Linked DNA regions of Homo sapiens: region 1 is linked to region 2. Evidence: fine-mapped expression QTL. Tissue or cell type: whole blood. Region 2 holds a variant in brackets; the other region holds the start of a gene. All regions are shown on one strand. Distances are between the middles of the regions.

The links. PIP is the estimated chance that this variant, and not a neighbour inherited with it, causes the effect.
Region 1: ABL2 starts here. The variant in region 2 is fine-mapped to the expression of ABL2 in whole blood (TOPMed, PIP above 0.99).

The regions. Positions count from the first base shown.
Region 1 is chr1:179,226,357-179,233,924 of GRCh38, reverse strand. ABL2 (ABL proto-oncogene 2, non-receptor tyrosine kinase) reads left to right here and starts at 4,248. Exons shown (of 12, transcript NM_007314.4): 1 at 4,248-4,684. The coding sequence starts at 4,528. RefSeq lists a silencer at 4,333-4,742 and an enhancer at 4,198-4,954.
Region 2 is chr1:179,186,030-179,193,597 of GRCh38, reverse strand. The region is part of intron 1 of ABL2 (ABL proto-oncogene 2, non-receptor tyrosine kinase); the gene reads left to right. Among named protein-coding and RNA genes, the nearest start is that of ABL2, 40 kb to the left of the region's middle. The variant T/C (reference allele first, on the strand shown) is at 3,952.

The sequences.
Region 1 (7,568 bases), 40 kb before region 2:
CATGGTAGAATTAGAACTGGGGTGAAACAGGTGGAAGTTTCAGGGGAACATTTTTCAGTTTATCTTTAGGAAGAACTTTTTTTTTGAGACTGAGTCTGGCTCTGTCACCCAGGCTGGAGTGCAATGGTGTGATCTCAGCTCACTGTAAGCTCCGCCTCCTGGGTTCATGCCATTCTCCTGAATCAGCCTCCTGAGTAGCTGGGATTACAGGCGCCTGCCACCACGCCCGGCTAATTTTTTGTATTTTTGGTAGAGATGGGGTTTCACCATGTTAGCCAGGATGGTCTCGATCTCCTGACCTTGTGATCCGCCCACTTTGGCCTCCCAAAGTGCTGGGATTACAGGCGTGAGCCACTGCGCCTGGCCCAGGAAGTATGTTTTAATAATTAGAACCTTTTGAAAGAAATGGATACCCTCACTGGAATTACTGCAGAGAGGATTCCAGATTAGCCTACATGACCTCTAAGTTTCTTTCCAACTCTATGACACTTGAGTCATGTGTCAAAACAAAACAGCCGGGTGCGGTGGCTCACGCCTGTAATCCCAGCACTTTGGGAGGCCAAGGCAGATGGATCACAAGGTCAGGAGATCGAGACTATCCTGGCTAACACGGTGAAATCCCATCTCTTCTAAAAAACAAAAAATTAGCCGGGTGTAGTGGTGGTCGCCTGTAGTCCCAGCTACTCGGGAGGCTGAGGCAGGAGAATGGTGTGAACCCGGGAGGCGGAGCTTGCAGTGAGCCGAGATCGCGCCACTGCACTCCAGCCTGGGGGACAGAGCGAGACTCCATATCAAAAACAAAAAACAAAAAACAAAAAACCATATTTGAGGGATGTAGAGGAAGGTAAGCGAATTTTATAACGAAAGAATTATTACCAGTTGTGGTTAAGGCCTGTACTGAATAGAGTCCGAGGAAACTGTTAGGTCTGTATTAATAAGTCTGAGGTTCTCTTATCAAGGAGGCAGGATCTGAATAGAATACTGAAGAGGACAGTAGAATCCTGTAAGGGAGTCACTCGAGACTTATATTAGGGAGAATATAATTATTGCAAAACTCATAGCTAAAAGGGATACATCTCAGAAATAGGCTAATTGGATAAAGTATGTATGCCTGCCATAGGAAAGGTGGAGGTTGGAGGAACAGGAGATGGAAGAACATTAGGCAATTATAATCCAGTTATCCTGGAAAATAACTTCGAAACACTAGGTGAAACGTTTATTTTGTTTATTTATTTATTTATTTATTTATTTTTGAGACAGAGACTCCCTCTGTCACCTAGGCTGGGGTGCAGTGGCGCAATCTCCTGTCACTGCAACTTCCGCCTCCTGGGCTCAAGCAATTCGCCTGCCTCAGGTTCCCCAGTAGCTGGGATTACAGGCACGCGCCCCCACGATTGGCTAGTTTTTGCATTTTTAGTAGAGACGGGGTTTCACCATATTGGCCTGACTGGTCTTAAACTCCTGACCTCAAGTGATCCGCCCACCTTGGCCTCCCAAAGTGCTGGGATTACAAACATGAGCCACTGTGCCCGGCCCATTAGGTGAAAATTTTAGACTTAAGACTTTGTACGTAATGAATGAGAGGGAGAGTGTGGTCAAAGCAATGAGAGAAGCAGTTTCTTTGAGTGAGTTGCTTGGTGCTAAAGGTGAGGAATCTCTAGGAAGAAAGGGCTAGTAGCGGGAGAAACCAGCGCAGAGATGCCTAAGCTAACACTGTGTCTTACATAACGCTGTTTATATAGATGAAGGGAAGAGGTAGATATGAGAGATACTGTAAAACTGTAAAAAGTATGGCAATAGCCTAGAAATGCAGACTGGTGAAGTCAGGGATTGGTGAGGCATTACTCACAAGCTCCTTCCTTCTGGAGAGAGTGGTGTTGCTCCTGTGATAAGGATGATGAGGATGAAGAGTATCTGTGTCTTCAGCACGCCTTACTGCTGTTGGTGATGTGTCTGATCTTTTATGCTGGCCTCTGGCCATTGCTCAAATTTATATATATATATATATATAAAATTTGAAAAAGTTAGGCTTGTAAAACCTAAAACCATTATGTTTTTTGTATTAATAGTATATGCATATATGACACCAGTTATATGCCAAATACTGTTTTAAGTACTATACATATATATTGACTAATTTAATTTTCACAATATTCCTATAAGGTAGATACTATTTGTTATCATCATCAGTTTACAGATAATGTACTGAGACACAAAAAGGTTATGTACTTTGCCCAGATCAAATAGTCCATAAGTATCAGGGCCAAGTTATGAACCCAAGCAGTCTGGCTTCAGAGCCCCTGCCCTTAGCCACTGCACTCTACTGCAGGCTGAGCAGCCCTTATCAGAAATGTTCGGACCACAAGTGTTTCAGATTTGGGAATATTTACACACACATAATGAGATATCTTGGGCATGCGACCCAAGTCTAAACACAAAATTCATTTATGTTTCATATACACCTTTATACACATAGCTTGAATGCAATTTAATACAATATTTTAAAAATTTTGTGCATGAAACAAAGTTTATGTTAAGTACTTACGTGAAATGTTCCACCTCTGGCATCATATTGGTGCTCAAAAAATTTCGAATTTTGCAGCATTTTGGATTTTCAGATTTGAGATGTTCAACCCATATATTCATCTATCTTTATATAGTATGCATGAATTAGCAGAGAAACCAAACCATTATCCCCAAATTAAAATTTTCTCCCATAATAAAAATCAAACAGTAAACCAAATTCCGGCTCTGTGACATCTTTATCCCTTTCGAATGAATTTTTTTCAGTAGTTGCAAACACTGGGAATTAGAAGAAAAGACAGGTATTTTAAACACAGGGAAACTTTAATCCAAATGGAAAGTTCATATTTTATCCAGTGTTTACACATAGTGTTTCCGTTCCCATTTTGGAGTTAATTTCAGTTATTTCTGGCTACACCCTAGATGGCAATGGAATAATTTCATAGTGCTTTTACAACAGGCAATATCTACGTCAGTGGATGGTTCATCTAAGGTCAACCTGGTTCAGGAAAGATATGCAAAGGAGAGCTTCATCCACCTCTTCTCCCAACCCTACATTTCCAGTGGTTGTTTTGTTCCTTCTTTGCAGTGGCTCCCGTCCTGTCTAATTTAAGCAAAATTTCAGTGTAGTACCTCCATTAACTGATACTTTTTATAAAGCAAATTGGGAAGCCAAAAGAATAACAGGAGAATGATCAAGATTTGAGAATTAAAAAAAATTGAATTAAGATGCAAGTAAACACAGTGGGAGAGGGGGATGGCGAGTCAATTGTATATAGTATATGTGTATGTATAAAACGCTTCTTTTCTGCCTCATTCACTCTCTTTAGACTGCATAAGCTAAAATGAGTAAGTTCTGACTCAGAAACAGGGTCAAAGATATATATTTTTTCTCCTTTGTCATCAAAAGAAGACCTGACCACGTGCACAGTGTATAAAGGATGCCAGTGGGAAGATTAACTTTACTGTCAGGCATTGTAAGGAAACAGAAACTCACATATGGTGAGATGGTAAAGGAGTTCAAGAGGAATTCATGGTAATATAATATGAGGAATGGGGCTACAATTGCGTCCCCAATGAGACTATAGAAGGCACACAATCCAGGCCAGTGCGATTTAACATCATGAAATAATCTCCAAAAATTAAAATCAAATAAGGTAGCATTTTACTCTCTTCTTGTAAATTTTATACCATTTTAATTTTTACTGGAGGCCTGCTGCTGACAAGGGTGTTTAAAAGAGATCCCCCTGGGTATTTTAGAGCTCCTTAACTGGATGGCAAGGACCAAATAAATGCCTTGTGCTTTTCTGCCCCACCTGTGCCTGCACCTGAGCTGCGCACGCGGTGGCACTGAGCCCTCGACTCACTCATTTGACAGGTGGAGGTGGGATGGGGAAGGCCGGAGACCGACCAACCCCAAAGGCGGTAGCGTGTGGAGCCGAACGCGGGAGGGGGTCGGCTGAGGCGGATTGAGGGGGGGGACGCCGAGGTGCGGCGACAGGACGCGGAGGACGAAAGACCTCAAGCAGCGGTGGCCGGCAAATGAGGTGGGCACTGGGGGACCCACCCTGCGAGGAGGCGGGGGCGGGGACGGGGGGCGCGGCGCGGCAGGGCGGGGCGGCAGCCGGGAAGCCCTCCTTCCCCGCGGCGGAGGTGACTGGCGGGCGGGGGGCGGGGGGCGGGGGGCGGGAGACGCTCTGTCCCACGCTTTCCCAGCGCTCGGTGGTTTAAAGATGGCGGCGGCGGTGGCGGCGGCGGCGGCGGCGGCGTTGGGGGCGCGGAGCCGCGACAGGAGGAGGGAAAAGCAGAATCTGTGAGTCGCCTGGAGGCAGCGCGGCGGCTGCCGTGAGGAGGCCGGGTGCGGAGCCGCCGGTGGCCCAGCCACTCAGGGCCAGGGCCTGGGCTGGGAGGGAGAGACCGGAGCAGCGCCAGGAGCCCGAGGCCGGAGCCGAGGAGGAATGTGACCAGGGGTCGGCGGGGGCGCGGGAGTACGCGAGAGCAGGGATGGGGCAGCAGGTGGGCCGCGTCGGGGAAGCTCCGGGGCTCCAGCAGCCTCAGCCCCGCGGGATCCGGGGCAGCAGTGCAGCCAGGCCCTCCGGCCGCAGGCGGGACCCGGCGGGGCGCACCACAGAGACCGGCTTCAATATCTTCACCCAGCATGGTGAGTGTGTCTGGGAGCCGGCATGAGAGCGTGGGGGAGGCCGGGGGTGGGGTCGGGGCGGGGTGGGTGGCGGACGGGCTGCCCGAGGGGTCGGAGGGTGGAAGGTGCCTGAGAGTGGGGGCGGAATCCGCTGCCATCTGGTCCAGTCCTGGGAGGCGAGTCACACCCCTCCCCCCTCGCGTCTCTAGCCTGGCTGGCAGATCCCGGGGGCGGAGAAGGAAAGAGAAGTGGGTTTGGGGACCCTGGATGGTCTGTCCTCTACTCTGGGACGGGACTATGCGGCTGCAGAAAGAAAGTGAATGGCAGCTTCAGGAGAGGGAAGGATGAAGGGCAGTATTAGCTCAGTCCCAGAGGTGGGAGCATAAACCCGTCGTTAGTGAAGGGGAAATGGGTTGTATCCTAAGGGATTGGGAAATGGGAACTGAATTTCAGGAGATTGTGGAGTACAAGGTATGTGTTTACGTTAGGTGATGAGCAGTGTCAGGATAGTGAACTGTGGACAGTGTCAAATGCTTTTCTGTAGGGAAGATGAAGTTAGCATCATCTTATCACTTTTGACATGCTTTTGTGGTTTATTTTGTTTTGTATTTCGTTTTTACTAGAAATGAAAGGCTTTGCCAAAGCCTCTGTACTATGCTTCAGAGTAGGACACACAATTCTGAGATTGCTGGCAAGGGCTAGAGGTTGGTGGGCATGGTTAGGACGTCAGTCAGGATATGAACAAGTTTTCCTTTGTAGTGTGTGCGTGTGCCCATATACATACATACATGTATGTATGCTCCCTGTAGTCTGAAACCTATTATTTTGATCTCATTGTCAATGTATTTTTAGAATAGTTGTCTCCAAACTTTTTTTGTCTTGTTTTTTTGTTTTGTTTTTGTTTTTGTTTTTTTTGAGACAGAGTCTCGCTTTGGTCCCCATGATGGAGTGCAATGGCGGGATGTCGGCTCACTGCAATCTCTGCCTCCCGGGTTCAAGTGATTCTCCTGCCTCAGCCTCCCGAGTAGCTGGAACTGCAGGTGTGCACCACCACGCCCGGCTAATTTTTGTATTTTTGGTGGTGGTGGGATTTTGTCATATACTCCTGACATCAGGTAATCTGCCTGCCTTGGCCTCTCAAAGTGCTGGGATTACGGGTGTGAGCCACCACCGTTCCTGGCCCAAACTCTTTTTTTTTTTTTTTTTTTTTTGGAGACGGAGTCTCATTCTGTCGCCCAGGCTGGAGTGCAGTGGCGTGATCTTGGCTCACTGCAACCTCTGCCTCCCAGGTTCAAGCGATTCTCCTGCCTCAGCCTCGGAGTAGCTGGGATTACAGGCGCCCGCCACCACACCCGGCTAATTTTTTGTGTTTTTAGTAGGGTGGGGTTTCTCTATGTTGGCCAGGCTGGTCTCGAACGCCTGACCTCATGATCCACCCGCCACAGCCTCCCAAAGTGCTGGGATTACAGGCGTGAGGCACTGCGCCTGGCCACATGTCTCCTATTGAAGATGTGCTTGAGTGTCTCTTTCGGGTATATGAACACTTTATGAAGGTGATATATGAGCTAATCTTTATTAAAATCACTTCCTAAAACACAGGATGGAAGAATGGATTAGTAGTTTACAGGGAAGAAATCATCCAAGTAAGCTTCACTTTGTGGGAAGTGTTACTATGCATTAAACTTGGCCTAGTAGGCAATGGTGATCCTCTTGCTTTACTATCTTATTCGGTATGTAAGATTTTCCAAGAAAGAGGAAGTCATGAAGAATGGAATAGGAAGACATTTTGAGGATTTGGATCTATGGAGAGGGAGAACAATTTGGGTAGAAGAAACAACTTGAACGGGAACATGGGAATAGATATAATTTGTTGATGGGCTAGTGAGGAGACAGCTGTCAGGAATGAAGCATCATTATGAGTTGGAAGAAAAAGATCATAGAGCAAAAATTGGAAGAGTCAAGTTCTGGTTCTGGCTCCACCTGCCTGGGTGATTTTAGTCACCATCTTTGGGTTTCTTTATCTGTAAAGTGAGGAGGTTGGACTGGATGATCTCTAAGATACTTTCTGGTTTTAAGATTTTATGATTCTAATTAAGAAGCAGTAGAAAGAAAATTTTGATAGGCTGGATGGGACTGGGTTATGGAAAATCTGGCAGAGAAGTTTATATCCATTTACCTGATTGGCTAGTCTTTACCTGAAAGACTGGCCTTGAGTGGTGGCAGTGGAAATGGGAGGAGTAATTTCAAGGGTCCTTTCATTCATTCAACAAACAAGGGTTTTTTTTGAGCACCTGTTATGTACTGGATTGTGGGAATGTTGCTGTGAACATAACAGAGTCCCTGCCCTTTGGAACTTAAAGGACTTTATGATTTGATAGAGGATGAAAGAAGAGAGATCACTTTGGAGTATTTGTTAAGGGCATGAACTCTGGACCCATTTTTCCTGGATTTGAAACCTTGCTTGGCTGCTTATGAGCTTTGTGACCTGGGACAAGTTATTTAACTTTTTGTGTCTTGGACTCTTCATTTGTAAAGTGGTGATAATAATAGTACCTAGTATTAAATGAATAGTGGCTGGGCACATAGTATGAGCTAAATGTGTGTAGCTGCTGCCATTACTAATACTACTGTTATTATTAAAAACAGGAGTAATTCGGCCAGGTGCGGTGGCTCACGCCTGTAATCCCAGCACTGTGGGAGGCCGAGGTGGGCAGATCATGAGGTCAGGAGTTCGAGACCAGCCTGAGCAACATGGTGAAACCTCGTCTGTACTAAAAATAGAAAAATTAGCTGGGCATGGTGGCACGCGCCTGTAGTCCTAGCTACTCAGGAGGCTGAGACAGGAGAATCGCTTGAACCCGGGAGGTGGAGGTTGCAGTGAGCCAAGATCGCGCCACTCCAGCCT
Region 2 (7,568 bases):
CCCATCTCTACTAAAAATACAAAAAATTAGGTGGGCGTGGTCGCAGGCGCTTGTTATCCCAGCTATTTGGGAGGCTGAAGCAGGAGAATTGCTTGAACCCAGGAGGCAGAGGTTGCAAGTGAGTCAAGATTGCGCCATTGCACTCCAGCCTGAGTGACAGAATGAGACTCTGTCTCAAAAAAGAAACAAACAAACAAAAAATTAAATCCCACTTGCTTACCTGAAAAAAAAAAAAGCAGACATTTAGGGCTGGTTTGAGTTACTGATTTGACAATAATATTCACCTTTAGAAAGAGCCTAGTACATTTTTAAAGTTTAGAAATTTTGTGTGATTTCATTGGCCACTTTTTCTGGTAGTGTTGCCACAAATTGACTTCTTCGGGCACTTTAGAAAAACAGATTATTATATTTTTTTTCTTGATACATGAAAATTATGGTTCTCATTTTTTTTTGCAAGTTGTGCCCTTTTTTGGAAATTCAGAAAGGCTGATATTTGGTGTGAGTTTGTATAATTTTCTCCATCATACCATGTATGCTGTTTAAATGTTTACCTTAGAAAAGTATGAAATATGATATGACCTTTGATATAGACAACAACGCAGAAGATAATTCATTCTGTTACCAAAGATATTTTAAGAGTTTAATGTTATCTTGATTTCTTTCTAGTAATTTAAGTAGTAATTCAAATAGACATAATACAGTGTGACTTAATGCTTTAAAGAAAAATACGTGAAAAGTTCTGTACTTGAAATAGCAAAATTTTAAGAAAATAATTCAGACTCTTGTATTTATTAGGAAGAAGTTATCAGACTTAATGTTTCAGAACATACTTTGAATAACCAAAATTTATTAATTTACTTAACCTAGTTTTAAAATTTTTTCTATGTGATGTGATTGTACAGTTTTTCTGCATGCCATGTGTTTCATTCTTTTATGTCTGGCACATAAGTAATTAAAGGTTAAGTCAATTGTCAGATTTAACTCAACCTGCTTGAGTTAATTTACTTGATTTTTCTGGTACTTACAGGTACAACAAATGGGTGAATTGGTGTGCCATTATGATAACATGACTTGGAAAATGGAAATTCAGGCAGTGTGGGACAAGAACAAGGATATTTATTTGTCCAGTGAGAATAAAAGTGGTCTAGGATTTATTGAGAGTTTGTTGTAATTCGAGCTTGAGTGATAATTTTATAGGATGTTATGGAGATAACAGTGTTGGTGGAAGGGTTTGACATTCCACATTTGACATTCTCTTATCATATTTTTTGGTTTGTCTCTGTCTCCCTAATGAAATGAAATAGGAAACAGCTAGAGAGTGGTGGGATATGAGTAGTTGTGCATTTGGATAGATTGACTAGCATGCTCAAGATGCCAGCCATATCTACCTTTGGTAGAGTGAGAGCCAAGGTATTCCTGTGGATTGTTTTTCGTAACTAAATCTGTAACTACTGAGTATAGAGTCCCTGCTATATACGTGACTAACCAAGGAGTGAAATATGATTGGTTCAAATATTTTGTTATATTTTGACTGTAGGGGAATGGTAAAATGTCACCAAGTATAAGTTACTCTTCTGCTTTATACTTTGTTTGCAATTAAATGTATTTTTCTTAAAGAGAATATAAAAGCAAAGGAAAAACCATTTGTAATGCTTTTGCTTAGGTCCAACCTTAATTTTTATATGACAGTTTCCAATTGATTGTCAGATTTTCTGTCTCATTTCAATTGAGTAATTGTTCCATCTGTCATTTAACATGACACAGACTGTTTCTTAGTAATTGTTTTGAAAACTCTTTAGTGATTTTTAAAAACCTTTACAGAGTGTTGATTATTTAAATGATAGCAGAATATGTATATATGAAGTAATTTCAGAGGCCGGACAAGGTGGCTCATGCCTGTAATCCCAGCACTTTGGGAGGCCGAAGTGGGTGGATATCACCTGAGGTAATGAGTTCAAGACCAGCCTGGACAACACGGTGAAACCCTATCTCTACTAAAAATACAAAAAATTAGCTGGGTATGGTGGCACATGCCTGTAATCCCAGCTACTTGGGAGGATGAGGCAAGAGAATCGCTTGAACCCAGGAGACAGAGGTTGCAGTGAGCCGAGATTGTGCCTTTGCACTCCAGCCTGGGCAATAAGAGCGAAACTCCGTCTCAAAAAAAAAAAAAAAAAAAAAAAAGGGATTTCATACAGAAAGATTAAGGTTCTCATACTATCATACAACATCTAATAATTTAATATAGAAGAATTGGAAAAGTATACAGCCTTATTTGATTTTGAAAATTAAGTGCAATCATCTATTACCTTATAGCTGGCAGAAATCAGTGCTTATTCTTTCTAACTTTGGGTTTATAATCCTTACCCTTTGTGATGTAGTAAGAATATAAAGTACTGGGAAGACCATTAGTCTAGTATTGGTCCATGAAGGATTTCATTACTGTCATCATTCTGGGTTTTCTTTTCTGAAAGTGACGTTCTTCCTGTGGCCTTCTTGGCAATTGAGAGGACCGCTGTTTTCAAGAGAACTGGGAGTGGCTTCCTATCTAAATAGGGACTAGCTGTGGTTAGAAGGGGAAGTGGGAAGTGGCTGGATCGCTGCCTCTACTTTTTCCTATTAAACGCTTTTTCCTCTCAACTCCATTACCAGGCCTAGGACCTTAAATTCTGGATATAATGGACCATATCCTGGAATATTGTTTTGTTATGGCAACTTTGGTGACAGAATTTCTTATAACAATGAAACATTATGTGATATTGTGAAATGTATATTTGGTCTTTATTCCGTTTCCCCGGCCAAAAAAAACCTCCTAAAATTCTAGGACTCTCACTGGTGATTAGAGCATCTTTTGTATGCTAATGAGGTGACTGGAGGCTGGGGACCCCTAGATAGCTTCAGGATGGGGACTGGTCACCTGAAAGACTGAGGAGAGGCGTGATTAGAAGGTTGGGGCTTTCATCACTCACCCCCTCACCCCCCTCCATCCCACCCCACCCCCCACGTCTCTGTGGAGGGGGGAGAGGCTGAAAGTTAACGTCATCAACGTCATCAACAATGGCCAGTGATTTAATCAACTATGCCTATGTAATGAAGCTTCCACGAAACCTAGAAGTACTGGGTTGAGACAGCTTTGGGATAGCTGAACACATGGAAGTTCCTGAAGGACTCTGCTCAGCCCCTCTTCTCCCACACCTTGCTCTGTGTATCTTTTTATTTGGTTGTTCATCTGTATCTTTTGTAATATCCTTTATAATAAATAAGTAAACGTATGTAAAGTGTTTCCCTGAGTTCCGTGAGCCACTCTTGCAAATTAGTCTAACCAAGGAGGGGGTTGTGGAAATCCCAGTTTATTGCCAATCAATCAGAAATGGCATCTGAAGTCTGGGACAGTCATGTGGGCCTGAGCCCTGGACTTGTGGAATCTGACACTATCTCTAGGTAGGTGGAATTAGAATTGAGTTAAATTGTAAGACACCCAGGCTGGGCCCGGTGGCTCACGCCTGTAATCCCAGCACTTTGGGAGGCCGAGGTGGGCAGATCACCTGAGGTCAGGAGTTCGAGACCAGCCTCAACATGGAGAAACCCCGTCTCTACTAAAAATACAAAATTAGCCCGTCATGGTGGTGCATGCCTGTAATTCCAGCTACTCAGGAGGCTGAGGCAGGAGAATTGCTTGAACCTGGAAGGCGGAGGTTGCCATGAGCCGAGATCACGCCGTTGCACTCCAGTCTGGGCAACAAGAGCAAAACTCCGTCTCAAAAAAAAAACAAAAAAAATGGTAAGACACCCAGCTTGTGCGCTTCTGTCTCTAGGTAGATAGAAGTGAGTTAAATTGTAAGACACCAGCTTGTGCACTGCTTGCTTGGTGTGTGGAGGAAATAACCCCACACATCTGGTGTTAGAAATATTGTGTTGAGTGGTGAGAGTAGGCCAAAACACTTTGGGGTT[T/C]TGTTTTTTCTATCCTCAGACTCCTCTTACCGTTTGGTAGCTGTGTCACCCTTTATGAATGAATAAATGAATGTACATAACGACTTCCTAGTGACAAGACGATTGCTAATTAAGATGTAATATGATACAAGAGTAGGGAACATTTAAGAAAGTAACATTTAACTTGTTCTCTGAGAAATTCCTGGAGAGTCTTATTAAAATACCCTAGAACAGGGCAGGGCGCGGTGGCTCATGCCTGTAATCCCAGCACTTTGGGAAGCCAAGGTGGGCGGATCACCTGAAGTCAGGAGTTTGAGATAAGCCTGGCCAACATGGTGAAACCCCGTCTCTACTAAAAATACAAAATAGCCGGCTGTGGTGGTGCATACCTGTAATCCCAGCTACTCGGGAGGCTGAGACAGGAGAATCACTTGAACCTGGGAGACGAAGGTTGCAGTGAGCCTAGATCGCACCATTGCACTCCAGCCTGGGCAACAAGAGTGAAACTCTGTCTCAAAACAACAACAATAACAACAACAAAAAACACCCGAGAACAACATGAAGATTGTCATGTTTTGGCCATTAGTGTTCCACATCATGAGAATGCAGAATTAAACTGGAAAGTTAATGTAATTCAGTCATTGTTATAACCTGTTAAATTAACATGTTACATTTTGTTTAATTTTGAAAAATTAACTCGTTAATATAGTTCAAGATTTAAGGGGTATACATTTAATCTCCCTATATTTCTCTCCCTTTAGCCTCTTCTCTAGAGGCAATCAATAGTCTCAGTTTAAATATACTTTTAACATTTATTATTTAAAGGACTTCTTTGGTGTGTATGAATAATTAAAGTTGATAACATGGATTCTAGAGTCAGACATTTTAGATTTTCATCTACTCAACAGTTACTGAGCACCTACCAGGTAGTTTCTTGGCACTGGAAATACAGCACTGAACAAATCACAGCCTTCTTGGAAATTACATTATAGTGCGTGGAGACAGGTGCTAACTAAATATTTATTTACTATACAATGTGGTGATTAGTGGTAGGAAGGAAGATAGTGCTGGGTAAAGGGAGAGAGTGATAGTAGAGGTGCTGTTTTAATTTTATTTTTTTGAGACAAGAGTCTTGCTCTGTTGTCCAGGCTGGAGTGTGGTGGTGTGATCTCGGCTTACTGCAACCTCTACCTCCCGCGTTCAAACAATTCTCCTGCCTCAGCCCCCTGAGTAGCTGGGATGACAGACGTGTGCCACCACGTCCCGCTATTTTTTTTTTTGTATTGTTAGTAGAGATAGGGTTTCGCCATATTGGCCAGGCTCATCTCCAACTCCTGCCCTTAGGTGATCTACCTAGCTTGGCTTCCCACAGTGCTGGGATTACAGGCCTGCGTCACCACGCCCAGCAGATGTGCTGTTTTAGATTGGGTGGCTGGGGAAAGCCTCTGATGGGGTAACGTTTGAGCAGAGAATTACTGAAAGAGTCAAACTTTTGGCTTTTGAGATAAAAACATTTCAGGAAGAGGACCATCAAGGGCAAAAGTCTGGAGACTGTATTTACAGTAGAGGTGTATATCCTTCCAGAATGGCAGAAGAGGCTAGACTGGCTGGAGAAGAAGGCTGAAGGAGAATGGTAGGGGATAATATATAAGAGGAAAAAGAAAGTAAAAGAATTGTGTGGGAGTAGTGATGGGGATTGCTGATGACTGGTTATGTAGGATTTGTATATCATAAGGAAGTAGGATTTTATTCTGAGTGGGATGGGAATCTTTTGGAGAGTTTATAGGGTTCAGTCTAGCTGATTTGTGGACAATAAACTCTTGGGGACAAGGGTGAAAGCAGAGAGATTAGTTATGAGTCTGAAATAGCCATAGAGTATACAACACTGTACTAGATACAGTGAGCTTTATCAAATTTAGTTAGTATTATTTCTTCCCTAGATTTGACTTTTACCCCTTGAGGAATGGAGGTAAGAAGTAAAAATGAATTCATAATGAACATTTATATTTGTAAATGATAACTTTAGGAATTACAGTTAAACTCTGGAGGGATTCAAATTTGTACAGATCCCTTATTTCAAGAAATATGGTAAAATTCCCCAAAGAAACTCCAATACCTTTTATAGTTATATTATAGCATACAATAATTTTTTTTCTTAGGCCTTCCAAAAAAGGCTGTGTTGCACAGTTTTGACAAATTAAATATTGGGTACTATTTTTTCCTCCCCATTTTGACTAGATGACATTTTGAATTTGAAACTTCTTTGGTTTCTCCAATGTATATCAAAGTGCTAGAAAGTATTTAAAAGGCAAAATCCTTAGACTTTAAGCAACCAAGTTGCTAGTGATGAAAATAAATGGAATATAAAAATGTCAACTTGGAAAATTTAAACTGACAGAATAATATGTTTGAATTTACTGGCAAACCTGCTGCATCTGGTATTGCAGAAAGGAGTGGAATGTGGGAAATCTGAAATCTGAGGATCTCAGAACTCCTAATAACTAACTGGGTGAATGAAGGCCCTTGAGTCAAAAATGAAATCACATATAAGAGAGACAAAGAGACTAGACATGGTAAAGATGTAGAAAATGGAAAACCAAGGTGGACACTGAAAAGTACACTATAAATGGTAATGGGGCCGGGCGTGGTGGCTCACAACAGTAATCCCAGCACTTTGTGGGGGCAGGTGGATCACTTGCAGTCAGGAGTTCGAGACCAGCCTGGCCAACATGACATAACCCCGTGTCTACTAAAAATACAAAAATTAGCCAAGCATGGTGGCATGCACCTGTGGTCCCAGCTACTTGGGAGGCTGAGGCCTAAGAATTGCTTGAACCTGGGAGGTGGAGGTTGCAATGAGCCTAGGTTGCACCATTGCACTCCAGCCTGAGTGACAGAACGAGACTCTGTAAATAAATAAATAGTATTGGAAGCAGAAGAGAAATGGGAAATGAAAGTTAAATGGAAAGTCCGGCATATTGACAAAACTTTAAATAAATATTTGCTGGATCCAGTCAGGTTTAAGAAAGAAGTTGAGGCCGGGCACAGTGTCTGAAGTCAGGAGTTTGAGACCAGCCTGGCCAACATGGTGAAACCCCGTCTCTACTAAAAATACAAAAAAATTAGCTGGGCATGGTGGTGGGCGCCTGTAATCCCAGCTATTTGGGAGGCTGAGGAAGGAGAATCGCTTGAACTCAGGAGGCGGAGATTTCAGTGAGCCAAGATCACGCCATTGCACTCTAGCCTGGGCAAGAAGAGCGAAACTCCCTCTCAAAACAACAACAACAACAAAAAAGAAGTTGAAATGGCTGATAAACCCAAACACACACGCTCAAAAAGAATTGTGAAATAAATTCCAAGGCTAGTATACATTACTCATTAAGTAGTTGTAGCCCAGAAGAGGGCATTGCCAATTTTTTTTTTAAGACAGCGTCTCCCTCTGTCACCCAGGCTGGAGTGCAGTGATGCCATCTCGGCTCACTGTAACCTCTGCCTCCCAGGTTCAAGCGATTCTCCTGCCTCAGCCTCCCGAGTAGCTGGGATTATAGACACGCCCCACCATACCCAGCAAATTTTTGTATTTTTAGTAGGGACAGGGTTTCGTCATGTTGTCCAGGCTGGTCTTGAACTCCTGGCCT